Homo sapiens: one gene and its partner. The protein of the gene in region 2 interacts with the protein of the main gene of each other region in a pairwise test. Each region holds a gene or a part of one and is shown on either strand. Other genes may lie near its edges.

What was found.
Region 1: the proteins of DESI2 (region 2) and PLIN2 interact in binary tests that used the Homo sapiens proteins (3 or more experiments, as listed by UniProt).

The regions. Positions count from the first base shown.
Region 1 is NC_000009.12:19,116,063-19,125,557, forward strand, and holds part of PLIN2 (perilipin-2), read right to left. Parts: intron 7,586-9,495; coding exon 7,503-7,585; intron 5,104-7,502; coding exon 4,818-5,103; intron 3,770-4,817; coding exon 3,588-3,769; intron 2,394-3,587; coding exon 2,259-2,393; intron 588-2,258; coding exon 186-587; 3' UTR 1-185. UniProt on the Homo sapiens protein: Structural component of lipid droplets, which is required for the formation and maintenance of lipid storage droplets.
Region 2 is NC_000001.11:244,682,552-244,692,046, reverse strand, and holds part of DESI2 (deubiquitinase DESI2), read right to left. Parts: intron 5,451-9,495; coding exon 5,378-5,450; intron 2,799-5,377; coding exon 2,705-2,798; intron 169-2,704; coding exon 27-168; intron 1-26. UniProt on the Homo sapiens protein: Has deubiquitinating activity towards 'Lys-48'- and 'Lys-63'-linked polyubiquitin chains. Deubiquitinates 'Lys-48'-linked polyubiquitination of RPS7 leading to its stabilization.

The DNA of each region.
Region 1 (9,495 bases), on a different chromosome or scaffold from region 2:
TGAACAGAAATCATCTGCTAATGCCAGAAACTTTAAAGCTCTTAATTCAGCTGGAAACAACTACAATTGAGGGCCTTTATACTAGCTACTTGCTTCCCAATTTAGGGTTGCCTAGCAAGTTAATTTCAACATAACAAAAGGTGTCATCTGTCTGGCCACAGCATGCACTAGTGATAGGGGCAGGTTTAATGAGTTTTATGCTCAGATCGCTGGGTCTCCTGGCTGCTCTTGTCCATCTCTGCACCTTGGTCCTGAGCATTCTGAGACTCAGTCAGCTGAGGATAAAAGGGACCTACCAGCCAGTTGAGGGGCGTGTTGTTAACAAGATAATCCATCACGTCATCTAAAGATTCCTTCATTTTCTGCAGCTGCCCCTTGCTAGAAGTGAGGAGGCTGTCAGACACTTCTTTAAAGGAGGCAGCATTGCGGAACACTGAGTAGATGTCGCCTGCCATCACCCCCATGTGCTTGGCTTGATCTTGGATGTTCTGTGGTACACCTTGGATGTTGGACAGGAGGGTGTGGCACGTGGTCTGGAGCTGCTGAGTCAGGTTGCGGGCAATTGCAAGAGTACGTGACTCAATGTGCTAAAAATAAAACTTAAAATTAGCAGTGGATCCAACAGTGCTATGTATAAATTAGTTCGATGACAGTAGGCTGGTTATGTGTCCACCACATATGTGGATTCTTTGGCTTTTAAAAATCCTCATTACAATGCCGAGTGCAGCAGTATTATTCACATTTCATAGATATGAATATAAGCTTAGAGTTTAAGTAGATGGCTTCAGTTAACAACTGGAAAACAGCTGGGTAGGGATTCGAACTAGTGCCTGAGTCTCCAAAGTTCATCATCTTAAACTGAAGAAACATATTAGGTAGGGGAGACCCAAAAGAATGGAAATATCCTTCATGTTAGTAGTGTAATGTATATATTCCCTCCTCAAATAAAATGACAAGACATGAACAAACAGTTCATATTGACTTCAGAGCTTTTGGGACACAAAGAACCACTTTCTAGGACTATAAGAGGATATTTCTTTTCCCTTCCTTCCTCCCTGCTTCCCTTCCTTTTTCTTTCTTTCTTCTTTCTTTCTTTTCTTTTCTTTCTTTCTTTCTGAGACAGGGTCTCAGTCTGTTGCCCAGGCTGGAGGGCACTGGCACAATCATGGCTCACTGCGGACCCGACCTCTCGGGCTTAGGTGATCCTCCCACCTCAGCCTCTCGAGCAACTAGGACTACAGGTGCACACCACCACACCCTGCTAATTTTTGTATTTTTTGTAGAGATGGGGTTTCACAGTTGCCCAGGCTGGTCCTGAATTCCTGGGCTCAAGTGATCTGCCTGCCTTGGCCTCCCAAAATGCTGAGATTACAGGTGTGAGCCATTGCACCCAGCCAAGATGCTATGCCTTCCCTCTGGAACCTTGGTCACCTTATTGCCCTTTCACCTAGTTTATTCACCCATTAGTTCTCAGCTTACCATTCATCTCTTCCAGAAAGCAATGTGACTCAACTACCCCCACTCCAAGGCTGCCTGAGATAGTCTTCCCATATGTTTTCTTTTTTTTTTTTTTGAGACAGAGTCTTACTCTGTTGCCCAGGCTGGAGTGCAGTAGCATGATCTCGGCTCATGGCAACCTCTGCCTCCCAGGTTCAAGCTATTCTCCTGCCTCAGCTGCCCGAGTAGCTGGGACTACAGGCACGTGCCACCATGCCTGGCTCATTTTTTGTATTTTTAGTAGAGACAGGGTTTCACCATGTTGGCCAGGATGGTCTCGATCTCCTGACCTCGTGATCTACCCGCCTCGGCCTCCCAAAGTGTTGGGATTACAGGCGTGAGCCATCGCGCCCAGCCAATAGTACCTGTATTTATGCCGTTAAACAACAACCGGACTTGGCTACTCTGAGTGTACTGCCTATGAGATAGCCCTCTTCTGCAAGGAGCATTAAAAAGGCACAAAATAGGACAGCATGGCTGGCTGTATCCCCTGTTAGTCTGTACCCATTATGAGGGCAAGGCCTGTGTTTCTCATTTAGTTGTATCTCACTTGGGGCATATGTATACTCATAGGTTGTTAGATAAAATTATTCGCTGCCTAGTTTTGCTTTTCTGCCACATAACTAGCCACCTATGTACATGGTATTGTTCAACCTTTTGATAGAGAAGAGTATTCTAAGACATAGTATGGAAAAATTGAAATGAAAAGTCTGATAAGAACTTCTTCAGCAACCAACAAATGACCGTCCCAGTCATCTTACCTCAGCACAGTGGGACTCATCAGTATCATCATATCCAATGCTCCTTTTCCACTCTACCCATGAGAGGTAGAGCTTATCCTGAGCATCCTGAATTTTCTGATTGGCACTATACACATTCTTCCTGGCAAATTCAATCTAGACACATTGAAACAAGACAAAGGAACACACAAGTCAGATATTCACGTTAGCCTGTTTGCAGATGTATGATGTAAATCAGGCAACATAAAAACTAAGAATTTCCTGGAGTTGAATAAGATCTATTCCTGCTATCATTATTATTTATTATCAATATGTGTAAATTAACCAAGCAGTAGTAGCTCTTTACTGCCTCTATTTAACTATTAAATCACTGACTCCACATTTACTTCCAGTTTAGCACAGGTAAAGCAACTAAAAAACTACAAAAAATTTTTTTTGAGTGTCACTCTGTCACCCAGGCTGAAGTACAGTGGCGCGATCACAGCTCACTGAACCTCCTTCTCGTGCCTTAGCCTACCGAGTAGCTGGGATTACAGGCATACGCCACCATGCCCAGCTAATTTTTGTATTTTTAGTAGAGACAGGATTTCACCTTGTTGGCCAGACTGGTCTCGAACTCCTGACCTCAGGTGATCCAACCACCTTGCCCTCCTAAAGTGCTGGGATTATAGGCATGAGCCACCACGCCCAGCCAGCAACTAAAATTTAATGTGTACATGAGTAAAGGATAAGTTAGCATTACAAAACAGAAAGGAATTTGACCTTCCTCTTCCCTGTTGCCAACCACTATTTCCCCTTCTAAGAAGAAATGGTTTTCTCATGGCAGTACAGAATGGTACATACTGTTCTTTAACTTGGAAACCTTTAATGGCTACACAGTAGTCTATTGTGATATATCAATTTAATTAGTCCTGTTAGTGGATGTGCATTGTTATAGTCTCTTGCAACTTTAAACAAATATACACATCTGTAAGATAAAAAGTAAAACAGCTCCAAGTGTAGGTATGCTTGTAACTTTACTAAAACTGTCTCTTGAATCAGTCCCTTAGAGCAAGAGCTGCACAAGTGTGGTTCTTTCTCTACACCGTTGCCAACAGCCACATTTCCCGTGTGGCAGGACAAGAGAGATGTCAGTATTTGACCCCTCAGAGCGAGATTAGCATTGCTTCCTATATTTCAACTAGTTATACTTCCTTTTTCTGTGAGCTGTCTCCATATTCTTTGTCCAGTTTTCTATTGGGTTGTTTGTCAACTAAGAATGAAATTCTTGGATTTTGTGATTACATTTAATTCTTGGGCCTAGAGATAAATGAACCCACTTCAGACACCTTAAAATAAAGTTTTACTCACCAGGTGAACAGTAGAATGGAGCTGAGAAATGGTCTGTTGGCTTTTTTGCTTAGCTTCTTTAACCCTGCTGAGAGCCTGCTGGTAGGCACGGGAGTGAAGCTTGGTAGACAGGGATCCCAGTCTAACATAATAACTTGGCTTCTGAACCAGATCAAATCCTTCAACTTTTTTTGCTTCTTTTTCTGAAGTTAGAAATAAGAGACAAAAAAACTTAAGGGATCACAGTGACAAGTGATAAGGCCTGGACTCTAACCTGGGTCTTGACTTTCTTACTTCTACCCAATCACTTAGCAATCATGCAGTCATTTTTCCAAGACTGCTCACGTCTGCTGCTGGACTTGACTACCCTGAACATATTACTGTATCTGATACACACTGCATGCATCTACACGTTTCTCCCACTAGAGTAAACTGCTTTTTTTTTTTTGGAAACAGGTCTTGCTTTGTTGCCCAGGCTGGAGTACAGTGGCACAATTTTGGCTCACTGCAGCCTCAACCTCCCGAGCTCAACTGATCCTCTCACCTCAGCCTCCCGAGTAGCTAGGACTCTAGGAACAAGCCACCATGCCCAGCTAATTTTTGTGTTTTTTAGGGTTTCGCCATGTTGCCCAGGCTAATCTCAAACTCCTGAACTCAAGCGATCTGCCTGTCTTAGCCTCCCAAAGTGCTGGGATTGTAGGCATGCATGCACCATTGCTCCCAGCCTAGAGTGAACTTGAGCGGCATGGTACCTGGCACACATTACCTAATGATGATTCTTTGTAAGGAGGATTTTATAAAGCAATCCATTAAAGACTATCCATTTACAGAAAATATTTTTCAAGGCCAATTTTTGCTAAGGTTTCAAAACTTACTACGTACGATTCAATGTGAACTTTATGATTGCTTTAGGAAGGAAAATCTATAGAGGCAAAAAGATTAGTGGTTGCTCACATCTGTAATCCCAGAACTTTGGGAGGTCAAGGCAGGTGGATCGTTTGAGCCCAGGAGTTCGAGATCAGCCTGGGCAACATAGTGAGATCCCATCTCTATAAAATTAAATTAAATTAAAAAGGACTGACTGCAAACAGGCATGAGGATCTTTTGGGGTAGCAGAAGTGTTCTGAAACTGGATTGCAGTGATGCTTGCACAACTGTGTAAATTTAGACTCAAGATGAGAGTATATGTCAATGAAGCTGTTTAAGAAAGATTTAATATAAAACAGTATTTCAAGATAAAATTCCAGTTACCTAGTTCTTCCTCAGTGAGAGGGAGGTACTGTTCTACCAACAGCTCTGATTTGGTGAGTGCATTTTCTACGCCACTGCTCACGAGCTGCATCATCCGACTCCCCAAGACTGTGTTAATGCTGCCACTGACCACAGACTTGGTCTTCTCCACACTGCCAGTCACTGCCCCTTTGGTCTTGTCCATCACCCCTGTGATCGTGCTGGCCACAGAATCCTTGGCCCCAGTCACAGTAGTCGTCACAGCATCTTTTGCCCCAGTCACAGCGCCTTTGGCATTGGCAACAATCTGTAAGTAGAAAAGCAGATCCCCTGGCTGGTGAGAAAAATGAGCACAAGGACATACCTAAGGTCTTAACTAAGGCAGCACAGCTGAAGAGTTAAAGAAGGAATCTAGTCCTCTCACTCTAGCTTTAGGTCTTGGGCAAGTCACTAAGAGTTGATGAGCCTGAATTTCCCTATCAAGTATATCTGCCCTACCTGCCAATCCTTGGGAATTGCAGGAGGAGCAAATGAAGTAAACAGATATGAAATTTGTCTGTTTGCCAAGGCTGCAGTGAGCTGTGATTGTGCCACTGCACTCAGCCTGGGTGACAGAGCAAGACCCTGTCTCAAAAAAAAAAAAAAAAAAAGAGAAGAGAAAAGAAAAAAAAAGAAAAGAAAAGAAGGTAAGTTATATAGCTTATTCCAAAGTCACACAAATCCAGAGAGGAAACTGAAGATCAAACTATACCTGGCCCTCGGGGTGTTATTAGTATGCAGTTATTATACATGGCAGGGCATGGTGGCTCATGCCTGTAATGCCAGCACTTTGCAAAGCTGAGTTGGTTGGATCACCTGAGGTTAGGAGTTCGAGACCAGCCTCACCAACATGGTGAAACCCCGTCTCTACTAAATACAAAAAATTAGTTGGGCGTGGTGGCACATGCCTGTAACCCCAGCTACTTGGGAGACTGAGGCAGAAGAATCACTTGAACCCCAGAGGTGGAGGTTGCAGTGAGCCAAAATTGCACCATTACACTACAGCCTGGGCAACAAGAGCAAAACTCTGTCTCAAAAACAAACAAACAATGACAAAAAAAATTAGCTGGGTGTGGCGGGGCGTGCCTGTGAACCCAGCTACTGGGGAGGCTGAAGCAGGACAATTGCTTGAACCCAGGAGGAAGAGACAGCAGTGAGCCGAGATTGTGCCACTGCACTCCAGCCTGGGTGACAGAGCAAGACTCTGTCTCAAAAAAAAAAAAAAAAAAAAAAAAAAGAACACAAGTTACCAACATTTAAAGAAAATATCCGAAATGGAAAATAACTCTCACCATTAGCACAGTCTCAAGCAATGTAAGTGAAAAATTTAAAAGATTTGCACAAGCATTCTAAAGGCTATACACTAAACCTACCTATAGTTGTGTACCACATAATATTTTGGTCAGCGATGGACCACTATTCAATGATAGTCCCATAAGATTATAATGAACTGCCCTATAACAGGTATACTTTTTTTTTTCACTGTACCTTTTCTAGTTTAGATACACGAATACTTATCATTGTGTTACAGTAGTCAGTGTAGTCATGCTGTGCAGGTTTGTAGCCTAGAAGCAAGCAACAGGCTATATACCATATAGCCTAGGTATATAGCAGGCTATACACCATATAGCCTAGGTATATAGCAGGCTATACACCATATAGCCTAGGTATATAGCAGGCTATACACCATATAGCCTAGGTATATAGCAGGCTATACACCATATAGCCTAGGTATATAGCAGGCTACACCACAAGTCCCTAACCCCCGGGCCATGGACCATTACCAGTCCATTACCAGTCCATTACCAGTCAGAGGCGGCATTAGATTCTCATAGGAGACCTAACCCTAACCCTCTTGTGAACTGTGCACGTGCATGCTCCTTATGAGAATCTAATGATAAATATAGTGCACTTGAATCATCCCAAAAACACCACCCACCCCCTGCTGGTCCATGGAAAAACTGTCTTCCATGGAACCAGTTCCTGGTGCCATAAAGCTTGGGGACCACTGGGCTCTACCATCTAGGTTGGTGTGAGTATACTCTGTGATGTTCACACAATGGCAAAATCACCTAATGTGCATTTCTCAAAATATATTCCCATCACTAAGTGACAGATGACTGTATTTAGATTATGAAAAGACACAGAGCTATATTTTTCCCTAACTGGTATCCTTTTGTGCCATTCTGTATTCTTAATTTGAAACAAAATTTTAGGACATTATCTGAACCAAAGGATCACCAGGACAGACAAGCCTATCATTTTTGTCAACACTGGCTAGCTATCCCATATGGATGGTAGTTCCTGGCAGCATTGTACAAGCCAGGTGAGAAAAGGTTATATATATCACGTCTGCATTTATTTAATACCACAAGACAATCAGTTACTTGAGACAGCAATTTCATTTATAGGAGCAAAGACACAAACTGATAGACAACACACTAAAAGTTTTCTAATCCAAAGGAGGCTAGTTCTTCTCTGCTTCGTAGATACAACTTGACAACAGTTCAGGAAGTAAGGAAGTGGCCATTATTTTTCAAACATACATCCAGATCCAGGTTGGGAAAACAAGTATTTGCCTGTTTGTGATATGTACAGCTTGTTTTAACAGATAGAAGATGAAAACATGTGAAGTGTCAAGTCTCAGCACTTTTGTCCCAAGCTCACCTGAGTTGATGGCTGATTCAGAATAGGCAGTCTCTCCTCAATCCTGTCTAGCCCCTTACAGGCATAGGTATTGGCAACTGCAACTAGAATCACAAATGGGAAAATGTTAATGTAGTACTATAGGTATAGAATGAACACACATTACCATAGGCCTTATAAAAAATGGCAATAATGGGCTGGGCACGGTGGCTCACGCCTGTAATCCCAGCACTTTGGGAGGCTGAGGCAGGCGGATCACGAGGTCAAGAGATCGAGACCATCCTGGCCAACATGGTGAAACCCCGTCTCTACTAAAAATACAAAAATTAGCTGGGCGTGATGGTGTGCGCCTGTAGTCCCAGCTACTCAGGAGGCTGAGGCAGGAGAATCGCTTGAACTCAGGAAGCAGGGGTTCCAGTGAGCCAAGATGCATCATTGCACTCCAGCCTGGGTGACAGAGCAAGACTCCATCTCAAAAAAAAAAAAAAAGGCAAGAATGTTGATCTTATACAACAGAAGGCATTGCCTGGTTTATCTAGTTCTGACAGGAAGAGGCCTGGCAAGTTGCTGGCAACTCTCTTCTAAAGGTAAGGAAATATGGGGGTGTGAGGGAGGAGCAGGCAGAGGCAGTGACAGGCCAAACAGGAAGCTGGCTCTGAAGCTTCTTCCTTATCAACTGGCCCCTAATGTTAATGCCAAGAGTAGCCGGGCTTTCCCTGAACTGTCATTCAGAGAATAAGGTATCTGGAAACTCTCTCAAAATCGGCATTCCCATGCTAGTTTAATCCCTACCTACGCTTACTTCAGCACAGGTCAGTGTATTTGGGGTCCTCAGGAGGAAAGAGTATGCCAAGACCACCCTGGATCTCCCTAACAAGGGAGATTTTAGTGTGAGCTTCCCACTAAGAATACCAAACCAAGTACTAGTACCAAATTCATTTAGGAAGTAGCAGAGTTGGAATGGCTGGTCTCTAAAGGCTCCTTATAATCCTAAAAGTCCCTGGCTTAACCATTTGAAAGAATGATTTAAATCTTTATTCAAAAGCAGTTCATGTTGTGGAGAAATTGGAGCCTCCATACAGTGTTGGTGGGAATGTAAAATGGTACAGCTGATTTGGAAAACAGTCTGGCAGCTCCTCAAAAGCTTAAACAGTTATTATATAACCCAGCAATTCCACTCCTGGGTATATACCAAAAAAACCTGAAAACATGTCCACACAAAAACTTGTATACAAATGTTCACAGAAGCATTATACATAATCTCCAAAAGTAGAACGAACCCAAACATCCATCAGTTGAAGAATGAATAAATATTGTCTGTCTAGACAGTAAATTACTATTCAACAATAAAAAGAGATGAAGTACTGATATGATGTGACAAGACAGATTAACTTTGAAAACATTATGCTTAACGAAAGAAGCCAATCACAAAAAAACCCACACATTTTATGATTTCATTTATAAGAAATATCCAGCATAGGCAAATCTATAAAGACAAAGTAGATGAGTAGCTGCCTCAGGGTGGTTGTTAGGAAATGGGGAGTGACTACTAAGTATGAGAGTATGAGATTTCTCATGGAGTATGACATTTCTATTCTTTATTTCGGTAAAATATACATAACAAATTTCACCATTTCAACCATTTTTAACTGTGCAATTCAGTGGCATTAAGTCCATTTACAACATTATACAACCATCACCACTATCCATTTCTAAAACTCATTCATGGCCAGGCATGGTGGCTCACACCTGTAGTCCTAGCACTTTGGGAGGCCGAGGCGGGCGGATCACCTGGGGTCAGGAGTTCCTGACCAGCCTGGCCAACATGGCAAAACCCTGTCTCTACTAAAAATACAAAATTAGCTGGGCATGGTGGTGTATGCCTGTAATCCCAACTACTCAGGGAGCTGAGGCAGGACAATCACCTGAGCCCGAGAGGCAGAGACTGCAGTGAGCAGTCTCAAATTCCAGGCCTCAAGCGATCCTCCCATCTAGACCTCCCAAAGTGCTAGGA
Region 2 (9,495 bases):
AACTTTTAGGATAAAATTTAGCTTACCTCTGATAAAGCTGAAGAAAAATGATTGCAGTTTTTATGCATTAAATGATAAGCATTGCCTTTGTATTCTTTTCCCAGTTCTTCTACAATTTTTTCTATATCATCTTCTAGGAAGTCCGTGCTCCCTAAAACAACAGCTTCTCTTAAAGAACAAAAAGAAAAAAAAGAGAAAGAAAAATAAGGACATAGTTGTGTCAAATATTTATAAAAAGCATGTTTAAATACTTGCTTATTTCCAGGAATATTATGATCGACATAACAAATCAGGGTTAATATAACAAGACTAAAAGTGAAACAAGATACTTTAAAAGTCCTATTTTAGTTTCTACTTTTCTGCAATAAACTCTTAAGTATATTACCTATGAATACTACAAAAGCACAAGTCATTTTCTTTATGAAATATATGTCCTTATGTAACATGTAATATTACAGTTATTTTCACAACTATTGTATTAGCAGTTATATTATTAGGGAACCAGATCCATGCTGCAAATATTCCTGCGTAATTTCACTTGCCATTTAAGGGCTGGCCATAATGTCACCTAGAAACAAACTTTTAAGTTATCTGTCACTGTGCTGCAATGAGACAAACTGTCAAATCTGACTAAACGTTTTTTAAAAAGAAGGACCCTGGCCGGGTATGGCGGCTCACGCCTGTAATCCCAGCACTTTGGGAGGCCGAGGTGGGCAGATCACCTGAGGTCAGGAGTTCGAGACCAGCCTGGCCAACACGGTGAAACCCCCGTCTCTAAAACAATACAAAAATTAGTCGGGCATGATGGCAGGTGCCTGTAATCCCAGCTACTTGGGAGGCTGAGGCGGAAGAATCGCTTGAACGCAGGAGGCAGAGGTTGCAGTGAGCCGAGATCGTACCACTGTACTCCAGCCAGGGTGACAGAGCAAGACTCCATCTCTAAACAAACAAAAATTAAAAGGACTCCAAACTACTACCTTGGAAAGGCGACAGACATTATCCAAGAGAAAGTGGAATTTTAGTCAGATAAAAGGCATCCAAGGAACCTGAAAATACTTAGAAAATCCTTTTATCAAGTAGTCTTGCCAAAAGAGAGCCCGAAGGAGTGGATTCAGGATGGTATCATAGCACTTACGTGCGAAAATCTTTCAATTCAGTGATAGGCTAAGAGAACTATGAACTTAGTAGAGGGCTTAATGTGTAGCTCTCTACTGAAGTTTAATGTTGGAACCTCATTTCACTGTCTCTTTTTCACTTGGCAAGCCATCTATTATAGGCCCAGAAGTTTAAAGCTCCTTGAAACTCACATTCTAAATATCACTTTTTTTTTTTTTTTTTGGTGAGACGGAGATTTACTCTTGTTGCCCAGGCTGGAGTGCAATGGCGCGACCTCAGCTCACCGCATCCTCTGCCTCCCAGGTTCAAGCAATTCTCCTGCCTCAGCCTCCCGAGTAGCTGGGATTACAGGCATGTACCACCATGCCTGGCTAATTTTATATTTTTAGTAGAGACGGGGTTTCACCGTGTTGCCCAGGCTGATCTCGAACTCCTGACCTCAGGTGATCCGCCTGCCTTGGCCTCCCAAAGTGCTGGGATTACAGGCATGAGCCACTGCACCCGGCCCTAAATATCACTTTAAATACAAACCTCAATTAAGGAATGAAAATTTTATTATTAACATTTATATTCTCATTCTCAGCAAACTATCACAAGGACAGAAAACCAAACACCGTATGTTCTCACTCATAGGTGGGAACTGAACGATGAGAACACTTGGACACAGGGCGGGGAACATCACACACCAGGGCCTGTCGCGGGGTGGGAGCCTGGGGGAGGGATAGCATTAGGAGAAATACCTAATGTAAATGATGAGATCATGGGTGCTGCAAACCAACATGACACATGGATACCTATGTAACAAACCTGCACGTTGTGCACATGTACCCTAGAACTTAAAGTATAAATAAAAAAAATTATATTCTCACTGCTTTTTATTACTCGTAAGACTCCAGTGAACACTTACATCCATATATTTTAGGTTTATCATTACATGTAATACATGTACCTTAACAATGGATTCTACGCTAATCAACTGTTTAATTATTTCAAACGTGTAAAGTGTCCCTTTCATTGGGACAATAAAGACATTTTTAATTTGCTAGGTAGGTCACAATAAAACTTTTTCTCCTTTCAAACAGGAGATTGAGGGGAAGAAATCATTAGAAAGGAGTTTCCTGGGCTGGGCGTGGTGGCTCACGCCTGTAATCCCAGCACTTTGGGAGGCCGAGGCAGGTGGATCACCTGAGGTCAGGAGTTCAAGACTAGCCTGGCCAACATGGCGAAACTCCATCTCTACTAAAAATACAAAAATTAGCCGGACGTCGTGGTGCACGCCTGTAATCCCAGCTACTTGGGAGCCTGAGGCAGGAGAATCGCTTGAACCTAGAAGGCGGACGCTGCAGTGAGCTGAGATCACGCCACTTCTCTCCAGCCTGGGAGACAGAGTGAGACTCCATCTCAAAAAAAAAAGGAAAAGAAATGAGTTTCCTGAGGCAAACTTGAGTTATATAAAATGTCAGCAATTAAAACAAAGAGACATTTTTAACTTCTTGGGTTTGTTTTGATTTACAGAATGAATTCTGTATACCTGAAAACAAGCTATGGCACCTAAGACAGTGTAATAAAAATTATCCTCCCTACTTACTTAAATTTAAATGTTTCTCCTAGTTCAGAAGCATTTCCTGGGGAAATTTCAAATATTCCAGAAAAGGGGTAAGGATGGCCACCATAAGCAAATTCTGAAAAGAGAAAACTCATGATTTTTAGTATGTATCACATAAAATTTAACCAGAATGCTGAATTAGCTTTAATAATTGAGGATAACAGTGACACCATCTAAATATTTTTCAGTTTATAAAATGCTTTCACAAATATCTCACTTAGCTATTACTCGTATAAACAGTTGTCACAAAAGACCCGAAACTCAAATAACAGAAGACACTCAAAGATATTCTTGCCTGCCATATTTCCCTTTCTTATCATGGCAGGAAGAGAGTGATCAACACACAGAGGTATATACAGTTCTCTCTGCCTGTCTATATCATGCCAGTCTAGGCAGGTGGTCAGTTCAGTGTTTTGCCACTTTCTAAGTTAAAGTGATCCAATTTCAAACACATATCTTACTGGAGAAACTGTCTAGTAACAGTGAGTTTCATGGTTTCTGGGATAAAGACTATTGGTTTATCTTTGAGTAGGGTGGAACATTACCAAACCTAAAACACTACTCAATTCTCTTCATGTAAGAAAAAAATAAACTGCCAAATTAACACACATACCCATCCACCCTCCCATCCAATCACCACAGCAAGTCTTTTAGCTAGGATAAACTATTTTTTGACTGTACATCCAATACAAAATGTACATCAGATACAAACTCTGGAGAACAAAATGGAGAATAATTTTAGATAAAAAATTCCTGTAATTTTCTGTTATTTCACTTAGATATTTCAGTGGCTAAGTCTTAGTAGACAAATTTAAAGAATTCCAAACCATGCTTAAATCAACTTCATCACTTTAAAAATATACCTTAAAAGGTCTTAGAACAAAGCACAGGAAAGAACAGGCAGATACTAAATTTACTTTTAATTCAGACCTGTTCAAAAAAAGCAATGATGTAGTTTGAGAAATAAAGTGGCTATTTTGAAACATAATTTTTAAAGTTTTTTAGTGACAAAATTTTACAAAATATTGTAGATTATCAGGTTGGAAGGGATAAGATTATATTTGGATTCTTAACTTTCTCAATTATAGTACGGAAAGTCACAGACCCATTCTTTTATTTAAAAAGCAATCACTAATTTTCAGGAATATATTAATATTTGATTCTAGCTTTACTAAATTTACATGAACATGTTTTGAAACATGTTTCTAATTATTACTAAATAATTTTATGAAGGGGAGCAATGATTAGGGAGATAATAGAGCCACGGACTAGCATACAAGAACATTTGGGTTCAAGTTTGAGTTAATTATTAGCATGATGACTTCCAGCAGGTTTGGGCCTCAGTTTCTTCAGCTGAAAAATGGAGAAGATGGCACCTGCCCTTACCTAACCCACCATGATCATGTGGTTCAAAACTTGATGGCATTTTAAGAACAGTAACACATCACACAAATTCAAGAAATACACATGCAAATTTGGCAAAAGCCAAATCAGCCAAAAGAGTAACCCCACAGACTATGATCCCACCCACAGCAATACTCCCAAGCATGAAACTTCCAGCAAGAGCCCCTCAGTATTTCCTGGGATTATTTGGTAGATGCAGACTTTCAAGTAAAATAGAGCTTAAATGGCAGATTTTTATAGCCAACATTTAATATGCTAAACTTCACCTGGAAGCAGGTAAAATGGAATATAAAAAAGAGTATAACCACCATACTGACACATTTAAGTAAATGAGTCTTTTCTTTGTATTGGTTAAAACTGGTGTATAGTGTTCAGGGGTAACCCTCAGTAAACTGCAATAATATATTCTTAAGAGGTCACAAAGACTGCCTAGCTGAAGCGAACAAAGGCATTTCTGCTATAGGGTTAGTTTATAATTCAAAATGATACATTGAATGAAATCAGCAATGTGATCTGTCTTACGCAGACCATTACTATTAGTTACAACTTGATCAGGGGTAGATTATCTTGCATCAAGAGTAGGAATTAGCACAGTGGAAAAAAACTGTTGAAAACACAGCTGCTTGGTTTGAGTGACTCCTGACATGTTTATCCTAATAAAGGGTTTTAATAAGGAGAATGAAAAGGGCTGAGTTAATGACAAAGGGCATGATTAGATGTAATCATGGCAGGATTTGCTCAGCAATGTTTTTAGACTTCAAAAACTTATAGATTTTATAAGACGTATAGGTCTACAAACCAAATTTATTACTGAAATTCCCTCAGGAAATTGGTATTTCAAGTCTGACACTTTCTAGCACCAACCTTTCCGACCAAAATTATTGTTTTTATCATGCTATTTTCGAAATGCAAGGTTTCTTAGGAGCTCCAATATATATGAGAACAAAACAAACTGTCATTTTATGACAATCACAAAAGGAAAATATTTTTTAAAACATAGTATTTAGAATAAAAGATAAAGTGAATGAAGCAAATGTATATTCTTGTATTTTGAGTACTTTCTCCCCAAATACATTCTACTTTGGGCATTTTTCCAAAACGCAGTATAAATGAATATGGGGAGATTTTCTTCTACTTTCTGTAATAACATATGCAAGTGGTTAAAAAAAGAGAGACCTATAGTTATGATTTTGCAACTCTTTTAAAGTACAAAATCTTCAGAGAGTATATTTAGACTGTGTGTACACGTACCTCTGCCATAGACTTCAATTCCTGAATGAAAAACTCCAATTCCAATGGATGAGGTATATTCGTTCATCCAATACTGAGAAAAAAAGAAAGAAAAGATTCAGAATACCTGTTCATTTACAACCCAACTCCGCGCTACAGAAGTGACTGCTCCCCAGTCTTTCACTCTGAAACTCCCATGATAACGATCCAGTGGTCCTGTCTCTGTGGCTCTGTGCCTTTGCCTGTACCACATCTGGAATGCCTTCCTGGGTCAAAATAATTGTCGCGATTTGAGTATAAGCACATTATCTAAGGCTTCTAGGGGAAGCAATACAATTAAAAGCTTGATCAGTTTGTGGGGCGGTGGGGGGAGAGATTATATAAGAGCTCTGCTGTTAGTGACTTACACACACACACACACACATACACACACACACACAGAGTGTGCTTTCATATCTATTTTTCTCCTATCCTAAGCTTTTCTTCTTATTCTTTGGTGAGCTCCCTGAAAGCAGAAATATTTTATTCTTTTTCAACAAACATTTACGGCATGTATCATGTGTCCTGATTCAGCTCAAAGTTTGATAATGGTAATAATATAAGAATAAACAATGCACAAAGGTTAGAACAACATTCTTACTTCTTACCATTAGCATGAATAAAAACCTCCCAGAAAAGTAATATCTGAACTGAGTCTTTAGGAACAAATCAGATTTCCCAGTAAGAAAACTGGGCCATGGGGCCCATGGGGATGGACAGAAATGCCAGGAAGAGGGAAGAGGATGTACATAGGTTATATGATAAGAAATTACAGGAAATGACTGTGAAAGGGGTTAAAAAGGTGAAGTGGAGGGGGTTAAACTGAGAAAAAGGTAAATGAGTTAAGAGCTCACTAAACAAAACACTTAGGTAACACTCAAAAGTGTTACAAACCTATTGGATGTCTCCCAGGTTAGGGGACAGATAATTTATCTTTAATTGTTCTAGGTTTATTCAAGTCTTAACCTTGGCTCCAGACCCCTAGCCAGTCTTTCTCAGACCTACACACATTCTCACGCATTGCTGGAAGAAGCATAAATGAACAAGTCAGTTGTGTTTTTTTCTAAAATGTACCTGGGGCCGAGCGTGGATAAAAATAAAATAAAACGTACCTGGAAGAAGAATTAAGCAATCATAAATAAATATATGAAAACAAGGAATTTTCCCATCTAGAAATTGAAATATTCATTAAAACAATATGGCATTGTTGCAGGAACAGATCCTGGTACAGACCCTTGTATATATAAGAATTTGATATATGATAAAGGAGATATTTAAAATTAATGACAAAGTATGACTTACTAAAAGCATGTTGACAAAATTGATTATGCATAAATTTCATGTATAAAAATTCTAGTGTGTCTAAAAATAACTATATATGGATAGAAGGGAATAGAGTTTTAAAAATTTTAGGTGGGAAAAGACAACCTAAGTAAAGTAAAATCCTAGAATTTACAGAGGAAAATATCAACAGATATTCTACATAAAAATGTACAACTTTTTATTTTATAAAACTACATAAAAACAAGATAAAAAGATAAATAATATGCAAAAAGAGAGAATCTGTGTGGATATAACAAAGATTCATATGAGAATATAAGTATCCCTCTTGATCGGAATTTTTTGAGTTCCTGATTTTGGAGAGCCAGAATTTGGATGGCAAGTTAGGAAACGAAGGCTACATTTTTTTATGTGAATCAATTTGATTTTGGAAGGAGAGTAGTAAGATTACATACAGTAAGGATTCTTCAAAACATTTACCCAAATCTATTTAATCCCAGAGTTTGGGCAGCAAAAGTTCAGATATGAGTATACTTGTGAAAATCAATGAAAGTGACTTAACCATTTCACCTTCTGGAATCTATTCTATAGAAATACTAGTACATATGCAAAGCCATGTCCCAGGATATTAACTGTAGTTGTCTACAAGTACTGAAAAACTGAAGTCTAAATATCAATAGAGAAATGGCTAATTATGGTACATTCATATTATAAACTATCAATCAAAAAAAGAATAAGGTTGACTTGGGAAAATTAGCTGAGATTTTTTTTTTAAAAAAGAAAAAAGAATGAGGTAACTCGATAGATATTTAAAAACCACATAAAATAAAAAGATCAAGTCATAATATGTGTAGCATGATCACATTTTTGAAAAATAAGTTAGCCTGAGGATATACTTACATGTTAAGTATGGGATGACAAAATCAAACTACCACCAATTGCAACAAAAGAAAGGTCTGAAGCACCTGTGTTCAACTGTTAACAATTTGGCCGAGAGGAGTACACGTGGCTAGGGTGGGAGTGGAGGACTAAAATGCAATACTTTCAGTTTTAGCTCCATACATTCAGGATTGTTTGTTCTTCTAAATTTGATAAAGAGTATTACTTTTATAGTTAAAAATGTTATTTTAAAGTAAAATGCTATTATCTTAGTTTAACAGGTTTTTATTTATTTGAATCTTTATACTATAGTAAAAGAATAGGTTGCACATATAAAAAACCATAAGCATAAGACTATTAACTGCAGTATTATTTATGTTAGTAAAATGTTGACAACAGCCTAAATGTTCATTTATAGGGTCCTAGTTACATAAACTATGATATATCTATATAATGGAATACTCTTTAGCCATAAAAAGAGGGGAAGGGCTCAGTGTGGTGGCTCACACCTGTAATTCCAGTACTTTGGGAGGTTGAGGCGGGAGGACAGCTTGAGGCCAGGAGTTCAAGACCCCCCTAGGCAACACAGGGAGACCCAATCTCTTAAAAAAAAAAAAAAATTAGCCAGGTACCCGTGGTCCTAGCTACTTGGGAGGCTGAGGTGGGAGAACTGAGCCCGGGAGTTTGAGGTTGCAGTGAGCTATGATCACACCACTGCACTCCAGCCAGGGCAACAAAGTGAGACCCTGTCTCTAAAAAAAAATTCAAAAAGTGTTGGGGCAGGTGTGATGCTCTTAAGGAACTAAGAGGAAGAGGAAGTAATTTCCAGGATATATTTGTTAGGGAAACAAAAGCAAGTTGCAAAGTAATATATGGCAAAAGGCTGGGCGCGGTGGCTCACGCCTGTAATCCCAGCACTTTGGGAGGCTGAGGTGGGCGGATCACAAGGTCAGGAGATCAAGACCACCCTGGCTAACATGGTGAAACCCTGTCTCTACTGAAAATACAAAAAATTAGCCGGGTGTGATGGCGGGCACTTGTAGTCCCAGCTACTCAGGAGGCTGAGGCAGGAGAATGGCATGAACCTGGGAGGCGGAGCTTGCAGTGAGCCGAGATCACGCCACTGCACTCCAGCCTGGGCGACAGAGCGAGACTCTGTCTCAAAAAAAGAAAAAAGTAATAATATATGGCAAAGACTTAGACTCCTGAACCTTCTCCTAGGCCCATGTGTACACGTACTTGTAAAATCAGGTTTTAGCAAAGAATCTTGCTAATTCAGTTCAGCAAGAACCCCCAACCCTTGCTATCTGATCACCTCCATATCTGGTCAGGTTCCTCATCCTCCACCATCCCCCTGGTGATGCCAGATCTTCACTAGGAAATGTGTTAGGTTGGTTTAGCCAGAACCCCCCTGGATCCCTAATGTTTCCTCTTAGAAATTTTCCATCCACTGACCCTCCACCCTGCTCCCTGGCTGCAAATTCCCATTTGCCCATGCTGTGTTTGGAGTTGAACACAGTTTCTCTACTCCACTGCAAAATCCCATTGCCATGGCCCCTCTACCTATCACAATGGTCTTGAAAAGAGTTTGCCTTACTGTGCTTTAACAAATATCACTGAGTTTTTTTTTTTTTTTTGACAACACACTATATACATGCTTTTGTATGAGAATGTCTGTATCTACATCTTACAGCCAGCAAACAACTCCTGCAGACCAATCTGGCCCCCCGCCTGTCTTTGCAAATAACGTTTTATTGGAACACAGCCACGCTCATTTGTTTGCAAATTGTCTGCGTGGCTTTTATGCCACAATGGCAGAGTTGAGTGTGATAGATAACCAAAATATTTACTATCTGGTTATTTACAGAAAAAGTTTGTGTAAGATCCCTGTCATATGCAAATATCTATTTTTTTACAAAAAAGAAAAAGAAGAAAAAACC